2 linked regions of the Homo sapiens genome follow. The protein of the gene in region 2 interacts with the protein of the main gene of each other region in a pairwise test. Each region holds a gene or a part of one and is shown on either strand. Other genes may lie near its edges. The genes, in order: RNF144A and PAQR6.

The links.
Region 1: the proteins of PAQR6 (region 2) and RNF144A interact in binary tests that used the Homo sapiens proteins (3 or more experiments, as listed by UniProt).

The regions. Positions count from the first base shown.
Region 1 is NC_000002.12:7,018,133-7,025,644, reverse strand, and holds part of RNF144A (E3 ubiquitin-protein ligase RNF144A), read right to left. Parts: intron 5,173-7,512; coding exon 4,965-5,172; intron 1,277-4,964; coding exon 1,129-1,276; intron 1-1,128. UniProt on the Homo sapiens protein: E3 ubiquitin-protein ligase which accepts ubiquitin from E2 ubiquitin-conjugating enzymes UBE2L3 and UBE2L6 in the form of a thioester and then directly transfers the ubiquitin to targeted substrates.
Region 2 is NC_000001.11:156,245,057-156,252,939, forward strand, and holds the start of PAQR6 (membrane progestin receptor delta), read right to left. Parts: upstream 3,001-7,883; 5' UTR 2,901-3,000; exon of another isoform or gene 2,859-2,900; intron 2,577-2,858; exon of another isoform or gene 2,454-2,576; intron 1,701-2,453; 5' UTR 1,676-1,700; coding exon 1,625-1,675; intron 1,195-1,624; coding exon 1,067-1,194; exon of another isoform or gene 932-1,066; coding exon 726-931; intron 606-725; coding exon 479-605; intron 183-478; coding exon 86-182; intron 1-85. Other genes in the region: nonsense-mediated mRNA decay factor SMG5, read right to left, coding at 5,531-5,614, 5,802-5,940, 6,347-6,421, 7,358-7,448, 7,863-7,883. UniProt on the Homo sapiens protein: Plasma membrane progesterone (P4) receptor coupled to G proteins. Seems to act through a G(s) mediated pathway. Involved in neurosteroid inhibition of apoptosis. May be involved in regulating rapid P4 signaling in the nervous system.

The sequences.
Region 1 (7,512 bases), on a different chromosome or scaffold from region 2:
GCTGGAGTGCAGTGGTGCCATCTCAGCTCACTGCAACCTGCGCCTCCCAGGTTCAAGCAATTCTTGTGCCTCAGTCTCCCATGTAGCTGGGACTACAGGTGCATGCCACCATGACTGGATAATTTGTATTTTTAGTAGAGACAGGGTTTCACCATGTTGCCCAGGCTGGTCTTGAACTCCTGACCGCAGGTAATCTGACCACCTCGGCCTCCCAAAGTGCTGGGAATATAGGCGTGAGCCACCGAGGCTGGCCTAATTATAGTTCTTAAAAAAGTATGCATCAATAAATTATTCTAAAACTAAAATCATAGCTTCATCATTTTGGCAAGATGCCCACGCCCTAATATGGGCAAGGAAGGAGAATGAGAAGCTAAATAGCAGCAACCTGTGCATCAGGCCTCAAAGCTCCAGAGACGTGTGGGCCTGGGAGATTGTGCCCTCCCGTCAGGGACATGGCTCTTGCAGGCACACACGGTAGGGTGTGTTTGAGAAACACTGAAGCAGAGCATACTTAGGAGAAGGCTGCCGTATGAGACCAGAACTTCCATTCTGCCAGAGAGCAAAGGGCTTGCACGTTTTCCCGCCCTGTAGATGATGTGAGTGTCAATGAAGTCTTAAGACTGGCCCCAAGCCCAACAGCCCCCCAGCCCCCACTTCTGTCTGTCCTCACTATCCTGAACACCAGGAAGGAGTCCTGATCAGGAACCCCGGAGCCAAATCTGGTGTACCCTGATTTTGGATTTCCAGCCCCCAGAACCATGAGGAATAAATGTCTGTCATTTAACCTGCCTCATCTATGATATTATGTCACAGCAGCCCAAACTGACAATGACAGTCCCCGCTTAGACAAAACCTAAGATGCTAAAACCCCTTTAAATCCCAGGCTGGATCCTGAACCTGCATGAAGTGTTTAGACCCCAGGACTATACGAGTCACAAAGGCTTCTGTCCCCATGGCGCTCATGAGTTAATGTTTTCACAAACCCAGGAGAAACACCAAACGGTGTTGCTTCACTGTTACACAGGAGTAGGCACCAAGCTCTTTAGGAAACAGCTGGTCTATTTTTCTCATTCCAAATCTAAACCTCAAAGCTAAATGCCGCAAGGTGAAGCTGAAGGCCGTACTCACGTCCAGAGACTCCAGGCAGTACCAGCAGAAGGCGTGCTTGCAGTTCTTGCACATCATCTGCGCGCAGCCTTCGTCTCGCTCGATGTAGACTTTGCACTTGGGGCAGCGCTTGATGGGCGCGTCATCTTCTTCCATTTTGAAAGCAGCACTGTGGGAGAAACGCCGTGAGGACTCTGCACAAACGGATCCCACGGGAGACCCAGGAGCACTGGCTATGCTGGAAGCATCGGCTCCACTTCACAGACTGAGTTTTCTTGGTATTAAATGAAAAAACAAAACAAAAACCAAAAAACAAAGAAACAGAAACTCCAGAAAAAAAAAATTAACCAGAACACTGTGAATCAGCCACTTTGAGTTAGGAAAAATTTTTAAAAAATTACAGCAACATCAACACATATCTAAATTTAGAGATATATGTATACAAACAAAAGAAAATACAGCGAAAGGCTTATTATAACGGAGGTATCTGAATCATAGTGTTAAGGTCAAATATTGTATCCTTATTCACAGAGCTGTCTACTTTCCAAAGGGTTGATATAAATTTTATGTACTTTGCTGTTATAAGAAAAATAAATAAATGTTGCAAATACACACACACAAACACACACTGTTTACTTGAGATAGATCCACCTGGCTCTTCTTACAGAATTGTTTTCCTCAGAAGTTGGCTAGGTCTGCAGGGTTAGCAAGAAGGGCTTTAAGCTGAGGTCAGAGCTGGGTCTGCTACAAACCAGCTGTGGAGCAACCCTCCAAGCCCTAGTTTTCTCATCAGTGTGACCATGAGAAAAGATTCCGTGTGCCAAGAGCACAGCGCAGGGTGCAGCTTTTATGAAGTGCTTGATAAAGGGTAGCAGTAGTTCAATGTTGCTAAAGAAAGATAACACAGACATTAGGTATGACTCACCCCATGCTGTTAATTTTTAAAAGATGGGTAAGAATATTCAGAAAAGCATCTGAAGGAATAAATGATAAACTGTTAAGAGGAGTTATCACTGATTATGGGGGTCCATTTGCTATATTGTTGGAACTCACTATATCAAACAAACATCAGCAGGAGAAAATGCATCCCTCCTTCTCGGGGCAGCTTTTTCAGAATTTAACACATGTATGGGTATATATTCACGGCAGTTGAGCAAATTCTGGCTTTTTGAGTGCATTCTGGCTGAAGGATCTCTCACAAGCTTCCAGTCAATATGAGCATTAAATGTAGTTTCACTTTAGTAGGAGCTGTCTGATGATTGGCAGTGAACAATCCTCCACTTGGGGTGCACATTCCAACTGAACGTGACTGTTTGGTCCATTAGTAGAAGGCAACAGAGTAAGAAATAATGAGAGAAGCAGTATGTCCTCCTAATTAGGAGCACAGAGTCTTGAGACAGACAGATCCTAGCTGTGCGATTTATGTGTTACGTGTCTCATCTGCAAACCAGATGAATAAGGCTAATAGCATCGATCTCTACAGACGGTTGTGAGGATTACAGAGGTTGCACATGTTAACATGTTAAGCACAAAATCCAGCACATAAGTACCAGGCACTCAATAAACAGTAGTTATTATTAACAACTGTTACTGAAAGATAACACAACTGTCACTAGCTCAAATGCTTCCAATTTAAAAGCAAACTGCAGACCAACCTGGTCATGCAGAATGTGATAAAGAATGAACTAAGGTTGTTGCAAGGAGCAAACGAGATAGCATATGTGCAAATGTCTCCAGAGGGATCCAGCACAGAGCCAGCTCCGAGTAAACCTTAGGCCTGGCCTCCTTCTGAGAATGACTTTGATTTTGCAAAAAGCTGGAAGTCATGAGACACCGGATCTGGTGATCAAGGTTGGGTTTTAGGTTAGATAACATTGTTTTGGTTTGAAAGCCAGGTGTGACCTTAAAGCTAAGAAACCAATTTTCTCATGTGACTCACAAGCTGATTTTGGAAGAAACGGCAGGAACAGCGTGTACAGTGTCTCCTGGGGAGACATTTCAAAATGAAAACCGTTAAAATATGAAAGTTCTGGTGTACTGTGCTATGCATAAAATTTTGCATGGAATAGACAATGGTTTTCAAATATTTCTTAGTATCTGAATTGGATTTAAAATTATTACTAACAACATTTACTGTAAACTCAAATTATAAAAGCAGAGAGGAGTTTGGACAGTTTAATCACAATCTACACGTGGCCCAGCAGCTTGAAGAGGTGCGCAGGTGATGCTAATGAGTGAAGTGGTCAGGGGCTGGATAAAAACATGGTTGAGGAGAAGATTTAACCAAAAACAACAACAACAACAAACCCTCCAATACAAAAAATAGCTTAGTGTCTTCTCAGTTATAAATGGCAGCTGACAGGCAGCCTCAGTTCCAGGGGACAAGGAGTAGTGAGGACTGTGGGGCTTTGGCCCAGGAGGCGCCTCCAGCAAGAGCTGGGGCTCTGCTACGCTGGCTGCCAGCATGGGGAGGCAGCCTCGGAGAGGCTTAGGATTCGGATTTCCCAGAGAAGCCAGAAATTCCAGTTTTTATGTGACATCTTCTGATTTAAAAATTTCCACAAAATGAGATTTCTGAATTTTGATTTAGATCATCTTTGGACAATAATTTAAATGAGACTAGAATGTCACAGATAAAGAAAACTAAGTCATCAGGCTCCAAACACTCACCAGCCTCCATCTAAAGTTTTGAAGCCCCTAAGATGCCAAGTACACGTGAAGTATAAGTACAAGTGGTTCGTGCTTGCAGCTGCCTGCCTGATGCAGGCTGCTCAGAAAGGCCCAGGCCCTGTGTGTCAGGAGCTCATCCTGATGGCAGAATCGGCCTTGTCAACGCAAGAACTCAAATCCAATATGTCCAGGGTTGTAATCAATGCAGAGAATCTCAGGGGGAACACAGAGGGTGGAGGCCCCAACCCTGTCCTCGGAACCATGAAGCTTGACAAAGGGATGTGATCCCCACCTGAAGTGTGGCAGGAGCCCCCAGGGAAAGGAGGAGGGCAGAGCAGGGCACTCCAGACACGGGAAGAGAGGTTCGCCCGGAAGGAGACCAGGGGTGTGTGGCAGGGACCCTGAGAGGGTCGGGGGCTAGAACAGGGCACAGGGGTCACACGGAAAGGAACAGGAGCTGGGGACGGTGGAATGGGAAAAGGGGCGCACAGGGAGCAGCTGGTGAGCACACCCTGGGGAGGGTGGTGGGTAGAGTGGCAGCTCCTCTATGAGGATCCTGGACTCAACAGGAGCAGGGGCAAGTGTCCAGCAGAACCACGTGACCTTGTAGATTTTGTAGGAGAAAAAGACCTGGATATGATGAATTTCCTATGCATCAACCTACGAAATGTCAAAGTACAGAGCGTGGTGCGGCAGCATTCTCCTGGGCAAACAGCCCGACTATGGCTGCAGGGGAGGCCGCCACCAGGGAGTGTCTCCCCATCCCCCTCCAGACAGTATTTATGACCAGTGCACCCTACTCCTGTTCTTGTTTCTGTACCCCCATTTCAGATCACCTTCAACACAGTGAAGTCTTGCAGAAACTTCAGGTACTGCAGGACTTGCAACCTTTAAAAGTAACAAACCACGCATGCATTTGTCATTCCAGCCAAGCCGTGTTAAGTGTGGTTCTCACACACCTTTCTATTTCCAGGGCCTCACACAGTGCCTGGTACATAGTCAGTTCTCAAAAATAAATAGACATACAAATAATGACAGGCTTGAGTGAGGCTCAAGAGGTACAGTGTGTGTTAGGGTTGACTGAGCCACAGCCACTTACACTGTAACAGCACTTTTAGGAAGAAAGCATGCCTGCTTCTCCTGGCCCACAGCCATGCCTTTGGTGGCAGCTTGTGTACAAAGGGTACCTGGTCTCCCCGGGGAGGAAGGTGATCGGCATGGTCTCCGGGCAGCCCTGGCCAGGGTGCCAGCTGGCTTTGCAGGTGGAGCAGAATTCCATACGGCAGGCTTTGCACTGCACTGGCTGGGGGGTCTGCAGCCCCACGTCCTGGAGCTGACACACAGCTTGGCAGGTGGACGCCGGGCACCAAGTCCGACAGGGATCAAACAGCACCTCTGGTACAGTGAGACAAAATGGACAAATCAAACTTAAGCCAGAGGGTCATGTGGGCTTCAGAGGAAGGAGCCCCTCAGTGCACGGACAGGGAGGAACATGTCCAGGTAATACAGCCAGCACCACCAGCCCCAACCGAAGCACCGCCCAAGCCACCCTTCCACCTCCACCTCCGCTGTAGCTCTTCCCAACTTCTCCCTTCATGCAACAGACCTCCAGACACCCAGACATCCCTCAGGAATGCTGCTCCTGCCCCTGGAATGCCCTTGGAGCCCTGGGTCAGCCCTGCTTGCCTCTGACACTCAGCTCACAGCTCAAAGGCCTCCACATCCTGGAAAGCTTGGCCCACCTGCCTGTCGGGTTTCTCTGAGCAATGCACATGGCGCTAGCTCATCTGCCTCCCCTAGGGGACAGTTTTCTGAAGCTGGACCCCTGATGGCCCCATGTTGGGCATACAGCCAGCACCAGGAAAATGCTGCTAGAAGACCGAGAGGAAGAGGGAAGGAAGATGGCTGGATTGTTCTTCTAACCAAATGGTTCACCTGCCTAAGATGGCCTCCCCTTCTCAAATCCAAGCCACGAGTTAACTACGGAGTGAAACCAATCCTTCAAGGGCCAGATTTTCTCTCCAAATCACAGCACACATTTCTAAGAAGCCCAATTTAATGGAATTAGCCACAAAGTTTATTTCTAAAAACAAGACACTTTGACACATCTATTTCTTCACATCCTTGTCCAAAAATTGCATTTCTTTAAATTATTGGCTGCCCTTTGTAGGAAGACTGGTTGTTCATTTCATCTTCCCTCTTGTCCAGCATGATGCCGAATTCTCGATCAGTGGCCACCCCAGGGAGCAGCAAGGCTCTGCCAGAAAGCTCTCCCAGGCCAGTGCAATGTGGGCTATTTCCAAAGGCGTTCTGGTAGGCCACTGGTTTCTAAGTTTTCAGCGGGGCTCTTCTTGGGAAGTAGTCAGGACAACTGAGTTTCAGAGACGACTTGAAAGGCGATGACAAGTCCTTGCAAATGTCTGGGCCCTGTGACTGGCCGCCGGGCAGCTCCCGCTCGCCTGTGTCACACATGGGATTCCTACTCACTGGAATCCACAACATGCTGGCGCCGCACGTGGACCGGGACTTCACCTACACGCATTGCCACGGGACCAGCAGGAAGTTAATGACAAATCACCCACTGGGTGTCCTGACGGTGCACACGCATACGTATGTGTAAGGCTCTGTGTGTTTACCATGTTCCCCAAATACATGGGGAAGCCAGATTCAGCTCTCCAGAAACCATCTTGTGTAGGGTCTAGCTTTGAAATGATCTAGTCATCTAATCCAGGGGCTGGCAAACTTCCTCTGCAGAGGGTCGGATAGTCATCATCTAAGTCTGAGGACCATGTTGTTTCTGGGTTTCTGTCGCAGCTACTGGGCTTTGCTGTTGCATAAAAGCAGACACAGTGATCTGGAAATGAATGTTCTAGCAAAACTTGACAGCAGCAGGCCACCGGCGGGACTGGATTTGGCCCACTAGCCATGGCTGGCTGACCCTTGATCTCATCTGGCTGCCCTCTGCCTTTTTTTTTTTAAGCATGAATTAATCAACAGCACAAAACTGTCAGAATGTTAGGGGTGGCAGAAGATTAAGAAGAACTTGATAATAACAAGGAACGCTGGAGGTCAGGAACAGGTGCTCTACTCTAATTATCTTCATTATAATAATCTAAAATCCCCAGGATGCTCCTCATACTGAATGAATGGACAAAATTAGCTCTTCTCTTATTTGTTGATAGTTTCCACATTTGCTTTTCTAAGAATGTTCCTAGCTGTCAGGTCTGACAAAATGGCTTTTTGAGAAAACGCAGTTGTTGTCTGTGGGTCACATGTGTGGGGGCAGATGCCTGGGGCTCCCCTGAGCTGACAGTCACAGCAAAGCAAGGAGGGGGTGCACATGCCAGCCTGGGGCACTGAGCGCCACGCTGAGCAGTGAGGAGGAAACGCCAAAGGCTAAAGGCAGCTGGCCTGGGTCATGCTCCCATCCCGTCCCCGCGATGCCTCCGACAACTCTCTGCCTGCCCTCTGTGAGTGCTGTGGGGTGAGCCCAGCTTTGTCCCTGATGAGATAGGAGGCCCATGTCTGCCCAGCCCTGCGGGAGGGTGCAAGTGCTGTGTGCACTAAACAACACGCTGCGCGGGAAGAGAAATCCTCACCCGCTCTTTGCTCTCCTCCCGATATAGCTCTGAGGCTAGATCCAGAAGGGCAGCGCTGCCTGCTAGGGACCCTTCCGTCTCACTGCTGTCCCCACCTCTCCTGTGCAGTAGGAGCTTCTGACATCAGCAAGGAGCA
Region 2 (7,883 bases):
ACTGAGGGGGCAGGGCTGGAAGTGGGCACCTTGAGGGTCAGGACAGGAAAGCAGGAGTCTGGGCAGGGGCCCTAGGCCTCCTTACCCGATAAAAGAGTGGGAGGTTGTCGAACAGGAATGGATAGGCGAAGGCTCCTGTGCGGAGGACCTTACTGAGCCCAGGGCTTTCCAGCTCCAGGAAACTGGGAGGCGGGAGGAAAAGGCCGGTCACCATCGCTGTGCTTGGGGTAGGGGTCAGAGAAAGGCAAGAGGACTTGGGCAAAGATGGAATATCAGCACAGCCTGCAGCTAAGAAAACCGTTAGGGCATATGACCTCCTGTGTAAAGGACCACATCTGTATGTGGGGATAAAGGGTCTGACAGAGGAAGTCCTCAGTACATGGTCCCGATGCCTCCAGTGCTGTTCGAGAGCAGTGAGGTGTGTCCTCTCCTGTGCCTCCGCCTTCCCCGTCCCCACTGGAGGGGCCTGGGAACCCACCGGGAGTAGCAGGAGAGGCCGGTGCACAGGAAGGAGTTGAGTGCGGCGGCAGGCACAAAGAACTGGTGCAGGTGGCCGTGCAGCCAGGAGGCCGGCATGGAGTAGGCGGCATAGGGGAAGGCGCAGCCTGCGGTGAGGTGGGGGCGTGCAGCTGAGGCCTGAGGGGCGCGCCCCTATGTCCCGCGTCCCACCCCTCGCCCCGCTCCGGGACGCCCAGACCCCGCGCTCCCGCGCCTGTCCGGCTCACCCAGACTGTAGAGGCTGAGCGCGCCGTAGTCGAGGAAGTAGCAGATGTGGCGCATGCGGGGCGACATGGAGCTGAAGGTGTGCGCGCAGCACGACGCGAAGGGGTAGAGGCAGGCGGGCAGCAGGAAGACCAGCAGCGGCCAGTGGTACGGCTCCGCACGGAAGCCGGGGCCGCCCGCCAGCGCCAGGAGCCGCCACAGGAAGTACCTGCGGCGGGCGCGTGCTCAGGCCGCCGCGGACCCCCGCGACTGCCGCTGCAGCCCGTGGGCCTGGACGGTCCCTGCCCGCCTGGGTACCCCCTCTGAGCTCAAGGCCGCGGCCTGGGGCGGAGCCTCCCCTCACCAGGTGGGCAGGAAGTGAGTCCAGATGTTGACCGTCTCGTTGGTCATCTGGAAGGAGCTGAGGACACAGTCCAAAGCCGAGCTGGTGGGGCGGCGGTAGCCAGACATGATGCCATCTTCCCAGAACACCTAGGGTAGTGGTGGGAGAGGAAGGGCGTCACTGTGCCCGGACCCTTTCCCTCCATCTGAGATCTCTGGAAGCAGGGTCAAAGAGGCTGGGCTGGAGATCAACGTGGCCCCCAAGCCAAACTAAATCTGATCTGATGTTACCACAGGTCCCAGTACCCACAACCCACAAAACAAATAGGAAACCGAAGAGCCAGATTGGGGTGGGATGGGGGTGGAGCGCAGCACACAGGGCGCTCTGGGGAAGGGGACTCCAGATGGAGGGCCACAAGCTTGTTCCTCAGAGAACAGAGGAAGAGTCTCACACTGGAATGGGAGGGTAAGAGTTCGCCTGCAGGAGGGGCTGCCCCAATAGCTAAAAGAGAAGAACGTCAGCCCCTAGTCAGTCCTCTAGGGAATGGGGGTTGGTGGGTCAGTGGGTGGAGCCCCTCACCCGGGGGACCTGGTGGACTTGAAGAAGTTGGGGCAGCTTGAGACTGAGCATGGTGGCCTGGTACCTCCACGTTGACCTAGAGACAGAGTGGGAGGTAGGGGATCAGATAACTGCCCCCATCCACAGGCCCCTTTCACCTGGGTTCAGCCGCAGGATGGGCTGTGCGTGTGGGAGGCAGATGGCACCCTCCCTCCTGGAGCTGCTTCCTTCAGGCCTGGGGAAGCTGGTCCACCTTCCCCAGCCCTTGCACCACTTAACTCCAACCCCTGTTCTCCTTGGGGCATTCAGTCCCCACACTGAGGGGCTTGGCGGCCTCAGCCCAGCAAAGAGTGGCGGGGTCCTCCCAGCCGGGAGGCTGCCTCAAATAGTGATCCAGCCCCGCAGGCCCCAGTTTTTGTCTCAGGAAGAATCCTGACTCCTGGAGGCCAGCACAGAGACAGCCTGAGTACCACTCCCTTTCCCACCAGAATGTGCTTCGCCCACAGCGCCTGAACTGAGCACAGAACACTCTTGGCACTCCGAATCTCTGGAGAAGCCAGATGCCATCAGGTGGGACAAGGAGGTAGGGGGATGCCTGGCTTTTCTCTGAGGACTACACTTGTGCCCCCAGGAGAATTTTGGGGTCCCTGCCCCTCCTGAGCCCAGGTATCCCTCAGCCCCAGACCTGTGCACTGCCTCCGGGTGGCCGCAGCTCTGCTGCCCCGCCCGCCTCTCCCGGCACATTCCTTGGCACAAGTGGAGGGGCTGGGCCAGCTGGGCAGGCGGAGCCGCCCCAGGAGGAGGACTAGGACACTCCCCCCACCTCCCCAGGCCAAAACTTTGCAGCAACTCTATAACTTAGCCCCTCTTCTTGCCACCAGCTCTGCATCCATGTTTTTGCCGCATGCACTTTGGGGCTTGCACCAGCAGTCACTCCCCCAGCCTCTGCCCGAGATGGGTGCTGGAGACCCTGCTGGGCAAAGGCAAACCTGGCCCTAGTCCCTGCACCCCAGCAGAACAAAGATGGATGAGGGCCTCCCAGGGTATCCCTTGCTCGCTCCCACAAGTGGGATGGTCGGGGGTCTCCCCTACCCTGAGTGCTGCCCATCTATCTGGGGGAGGAGTGAGGAATACGCTGGGGTCTAGCTGCCCTCACGGTGCCTTCCCTTAGTAGTAGGGTTTGGAGATCTCTGGAGTGGAGTGTGTGCAGTTGCTATGGAAATGGGGGAGGGGTGGCTGGAGCAAGATGCTTTACCTCTATTTTCCCAGAAGAGCCCCAGAAGGTGAGCTTCCTTACCCAGAGCTTGGTGGGTGCTCCTAAGCTGGTGGGTCAACAGGCCCAGGGCTCCACGGGCGGAGTCCAAGGCTGCTGCCAGCCAGGCTGATGGAGGAAGAGTGGCCAGGCAGGCGGGCCAGGCCTGGGCGGGGAGTGGGGAGACAAAGGGGAGCCAGGGAACAATCCCAGCCTTGTCCAGCCTCCAGGGAGCAGCACGGGGTGGCCCAGCCCCATTAGCAGGCAGCTCACTCGGCCGCCTGCACACAGCCAGCTCCTCCAGCACGACCCAAACTCCCTGTGCTGACTGGCTAGAACAGGGTAGGGGCCCAAGGCAGGATGTGGCCATGGTGCTGTAGAGTCCCCCCGGCGACTCAGAGCAGTGTTCCCGTTCCAGGTTCTCCCAGCAGTTGGGGACAGCTCTGCCTTAGGCTGGCAGAGGAACCCAAATCCCCAAATGCAGAACAGATTTCAGAAGCCATCTCTCACCATGCTTTGCTGCCTCTTAGCACCTGGTGCTGCCTAGGGCTCAGAGCAAACTGCCTTTGGTAAATGTTGGTTCTATCATGGGGGATTCACCAGGCTCACCACCTCCCCCTCCCCCCCCCCCCCCCCCCGAATACAATTTGAGATGCCAATCCTTGCAGGACAGGCACTTGAGGACTCAGAGGCTGGTTTTTTTTTTTTTTTTTTTAAGGTGGAGTCTCGCTCTGTCACCCAAGCTGGAGTGCAGTGGCGCGATATTGGCTCACTGCAAGCTTCGCCTCCCGGGTTCACGCCATTCTCCTGCCTCAGCCTCCCGAGTAGCTGGGACTACAGGCACCCGCCACCATGCCCAGCTAATTTTTTTTTGTATTTTTAGTAGAGATGGGGTTTCACCGTGTTAGCCAGGATGGTCTCGATCTGACCTTGTGATCCACCCGCCTCAGCCTCCCAGTGCTGGGATTACAGGCGTGAGCCACTACGCCTGGCCAGAGGCTGGTTTCAAGGCTCACCTCCCCACCCCCTTGGGGAAGAGGACCCAGCTAGTGACAGCGAACCAACCCCAGGCAGCGATGTTGCTGGCAAGAGATTTTCACTATCACCCCTGCAAAGGCACCGCCTCAGTTTACAGTCAAGGAACTTGACAGTGCCTATCAAACCATCTCCAGGGCCTTCACTCAAATTGCCTGCTTCTTGTTCTGTTCCATCCACTTCAAAGAAGCCTTTCCAAAATGCATTTCAGGATGCCATCTTCAGTGCCCCACCCCCCAATGAAACTTCTGTACAGACAGGCACCAGGAGACAGGGATTGGGCTTGGGGGGTTTATTAAGTGATGCTTTAGTCTCAGTCTCTGCCAGCAACTGGGAGTGGGGTGACTCCACTCACCCCAGGATTTCCCAGACTTGCTATTTTAGAGGAGAGAGGCAGGAAGCCAACTATCCTCTAAGCCACAGCTTGGGAAGCTAGGCTAGTACTGGGGTGGGGGCAGCAGAGCTGAGACCCTCCACCCCGAGCCCCTAGCCTGTGCTATCCTCCCAGCCTGAGGGGGAGGAGCTGAGGCAATCCTGGCTGCAGCCTCCCACACACAGCCCTGCTCTTGGTGCGCCATTCACTGCCCTGAGCTATTCATGATCTCTGCTCCCAGATATTCACCTCAACACTCCAAAAGCCAGCCCCTTCAGGTCTTCAGTCCTGCGGAAGGCAAAAGGAGGGACGGGGGCCTCTGACTGAGCAGCTTCAAGGAGCCTCTCCTTTCTGCTGCCCACTGAATGCCGGCCCCTTGTCTTCAGCCCTCCCTTAGATAGGAAGGGGGGTGGTGGCCTCAGACTGCACCCCCTTTCTTCTCTTCCTGGCATCCCATTCTGTCCCAGCACAGCAGCCAAGAGCACAAAGCACAGCACCTGTGGGGCTGGTGGGCACAGGAGACCGTGCTGGCACAGGCCAGACTGCCTGCAGCCCTAGGTGGGGCCTGCTCCCTGCCCTGGAAGCTAGACAGAGGGAGACACAAAGCAGAAGTGGGGCAATGGGATGTGCAGCCCCTGCAGCAGGAGGAGGAGCACACGAACCCTGACCCTGCTACTCGGTGCAGGCCACTCCAGGCCTTGCTTCTCTAACAGCCCCTGTGGCTGGCTCCAGAGCTGCCTGGTCCCCATAAAGGGGGCTGAAAGGAGGATGGGTGATCCTTGAGGAGGGGAAGGGTCTGCAGAGAATCACTCAGACACCAGGTATTACCCAGCTCTTCCCCCAAGACCTAGAGGGTCCAAACTCCTGGCCCCAACCACCCTGCATCTTGGGTGAGGAAGAAGGGCCTCTTTTGCTGTTCCTTCCCCTCAGAGATCCAAGAACCCATTCCAGTGAAATGCAGGTACCCATGCCTACCACCTGCCCCTGGAGACAGCAGGGGAGCTGAGGCAGGAAGGCTGGCCAGGGGCCCACAAGACTCTCCTAATCCAAGCACTTTCCTCGCTTTCCTAACGTCTTGGCAACAAAGGGACCCCACCCTCCCAGCCGGCTCCTGGGCCCTCCCTGCAGCCTCTGAGCAGCTAGGCCTCCCTCCTGTGTGCGTGCATGAGTCTGCGTGTGGTGGGGTGACTACAGGTGCTGGTCCTGGCTGCCAGGGAGGGCAGGAGAGATCTGGAGTCAGCCCCACTGCAGGGCCTGGGGGTCAGTATCAACCAATTTCCTTCCACTGCTTGTAGAAGTCCAGAACATTCTTGATGTCCACACTGGCGTGGGCAGCGGCCTGCAGGGCTGCCTGTGGAATGGGAGAAGGAAAGATGGAGAGGGTCTGACCTCCTGAACTGAAGAGCAAATTGTTGAGGCGCTGGGGAAGGAGTGATGGAAGAGAAAAAAAGGTAGCTATGTGGAGGGTCTGGGGATGGAGTCTGCTCTGGTACCTCGTCCCTATTCCACACCATCCCCCCACCTCACCCATGACCCACCTGCATGGGGCCTGAAAGCACGCTGGGGTTGTCCAGTGGAAGGCCTGTGATGATGGTCACCATGCCACTCGGATCCTCCTCACCTGCCCCCTGGGCCAGAGTCAGCTGTTTGCAGCTGTCTAGGATCTTATAGAGAGTCCTGGGGATGGGGGGCAGAGGGGAAGATGGGCCAAGACCCAGCATTAGCACAGCCCAAACACCAGGATCTCCAGGGGACAGGGGCAGCTGGGGGCTGGGAGGGCAGTGAGCAGCAGTGGGCCCTGGAAGCTGGCCCTGGAGACATATGGGGAGCAGGCAAAGGTGCATTGAGGGAAAACACCAAGCCTGAGCATCGCAAGGCCCAAAGAGGCTGACCCATCTGCAGAGGAAAAGCTCAGGTGCTGCGGCAACTTCGTACTCCTCGCAAGGTGAGGCCTGCAGGAGGGCCCTGGCAGGCTACGTGTGGAGCCTCAGAATTATCCAGCCCTACCCGTTCTCCCTAGGAATGCTCGTGGAGGAGCAAGGCAGGTGGCCTGAGGTTCTAGGGGTGAGGGCTAAAATGTTACCAGGCATCTGCATCCTGCCTCTTCAGCTTATGCCGCTCAAAGCTCTTTCCCACCTCTTTCTGGCAGCGAATGTACCTGCAGAGGAGATGTGCGAGTGGAGGTCAGGAGCAGGAGACTGGCAGGGTGCCTTACACAAAGCAGTCTGTTGTGGCTCTGGGGGCCTGGTTTTGCAGGCGGGGCTGGGGAACATGTCTCTCCCACCACAGCTCTGGAGCCATTCTTAAGTGGCTTCCTGGCTGCTGGGCCCAGCTCACTTTTCCTCCTGATAACATCAATTATTTGGTTCCTCTCAGGGGAGGAGCTGGGAGGGGAGAAGCAGCAGATGCTTTTCAAGTCAGGGCTTCTGGAGACAAGGTCCGAACAATCAGACCTTGTGCAGCTTCCTGGCCAGCCAGAGCAGATGCAGAGGAGGGGGTGGGCCAGCTAGCAGGGAGAGGGAAGCTTTCTCCTTATTCCCTACACCCTCTGCCTAGTTCTCCTCCAGCCCCAAAGGCCAGAAGGGCAGGCCTGTACCGGCTGAGCATCTGCACATGCTGCCAGCTGCCCCTCCCTGGCTGGCTTCGGTCTTACCACTCCCTCAGCTCAGCAGGGAGGTGGGAAGCCCCTGGGCAGCCTGGATGAGGCCCTCACACTCTGAGAAACCTGATCACCTGTCCCAACCCCAAAGCAGGAGAAATTCCTATAAAGGAGTTCACAGTCTAAAGTTGGGGGAGGGAGGTCTGCTCCCTTCTCCCCAGTGGGTGCTGATCACAGGCTTGCCCCAGAGGAAGGACAGCAGCTCAGTGCTCCCCACAGGGCTCCTGATCCCTTTGGTCACCCTCTATTTCAGCAGCTACAACCTTGACTTCTAATTATCTCTGGTATCACTCCCCAGGCAGTGAGGTGAGCTAACTGTGAGTAGAGACGGGTATGTATGTGTCTTACCCATAGGGAGCAAGGGGCTTTCATAAGCATGTGTTATCCAAAAGACAGACCCAGGGCTCAGCACAGGTCCAGCCAGGCCACACTCACCTGTTTCCTTTTTTAAACTCTGCCTCCAGGTACCGAATCCCATCCCGGGCCCCTGGGTGTTCCTTCTTCAGCAAATCCAGGCCATCGATCACTGGTGGGCAAGGTAGGGAAAGACAAAACAGATAAGCTCAGACTGCTGTGACAAGGGGCTCTGGAGGAAGTATCTGAGCTCACCTCAGTACACTCTTCAGGCAGAGAAGGGACCCTGGCTCCCTAGAGGGCTCCCAAAGTTCTCTGAAAACATGACCTTCTGCCAGCAATATACTTGGCAATTTACCAAGTGCTTTCTCATTATATTCACTTACATTTTCTGTTTCTCCCAACTGTCTTGTAAGGCAGAATAGGGATTATGTCCATTTCACAGATGAAGTGACGGGTTCACAAAGGTAGTAAGACTTGACCAAGGTTACTGCATATAAACTGGGCCCCAAATAAGGTCTCTTAATCCCAAGCCCAGAATCTCTTTTAGTCATACTCTGTCTCCTTACCTCTCCAATGTACTTACCTGTCCTTGGGATGATGACAA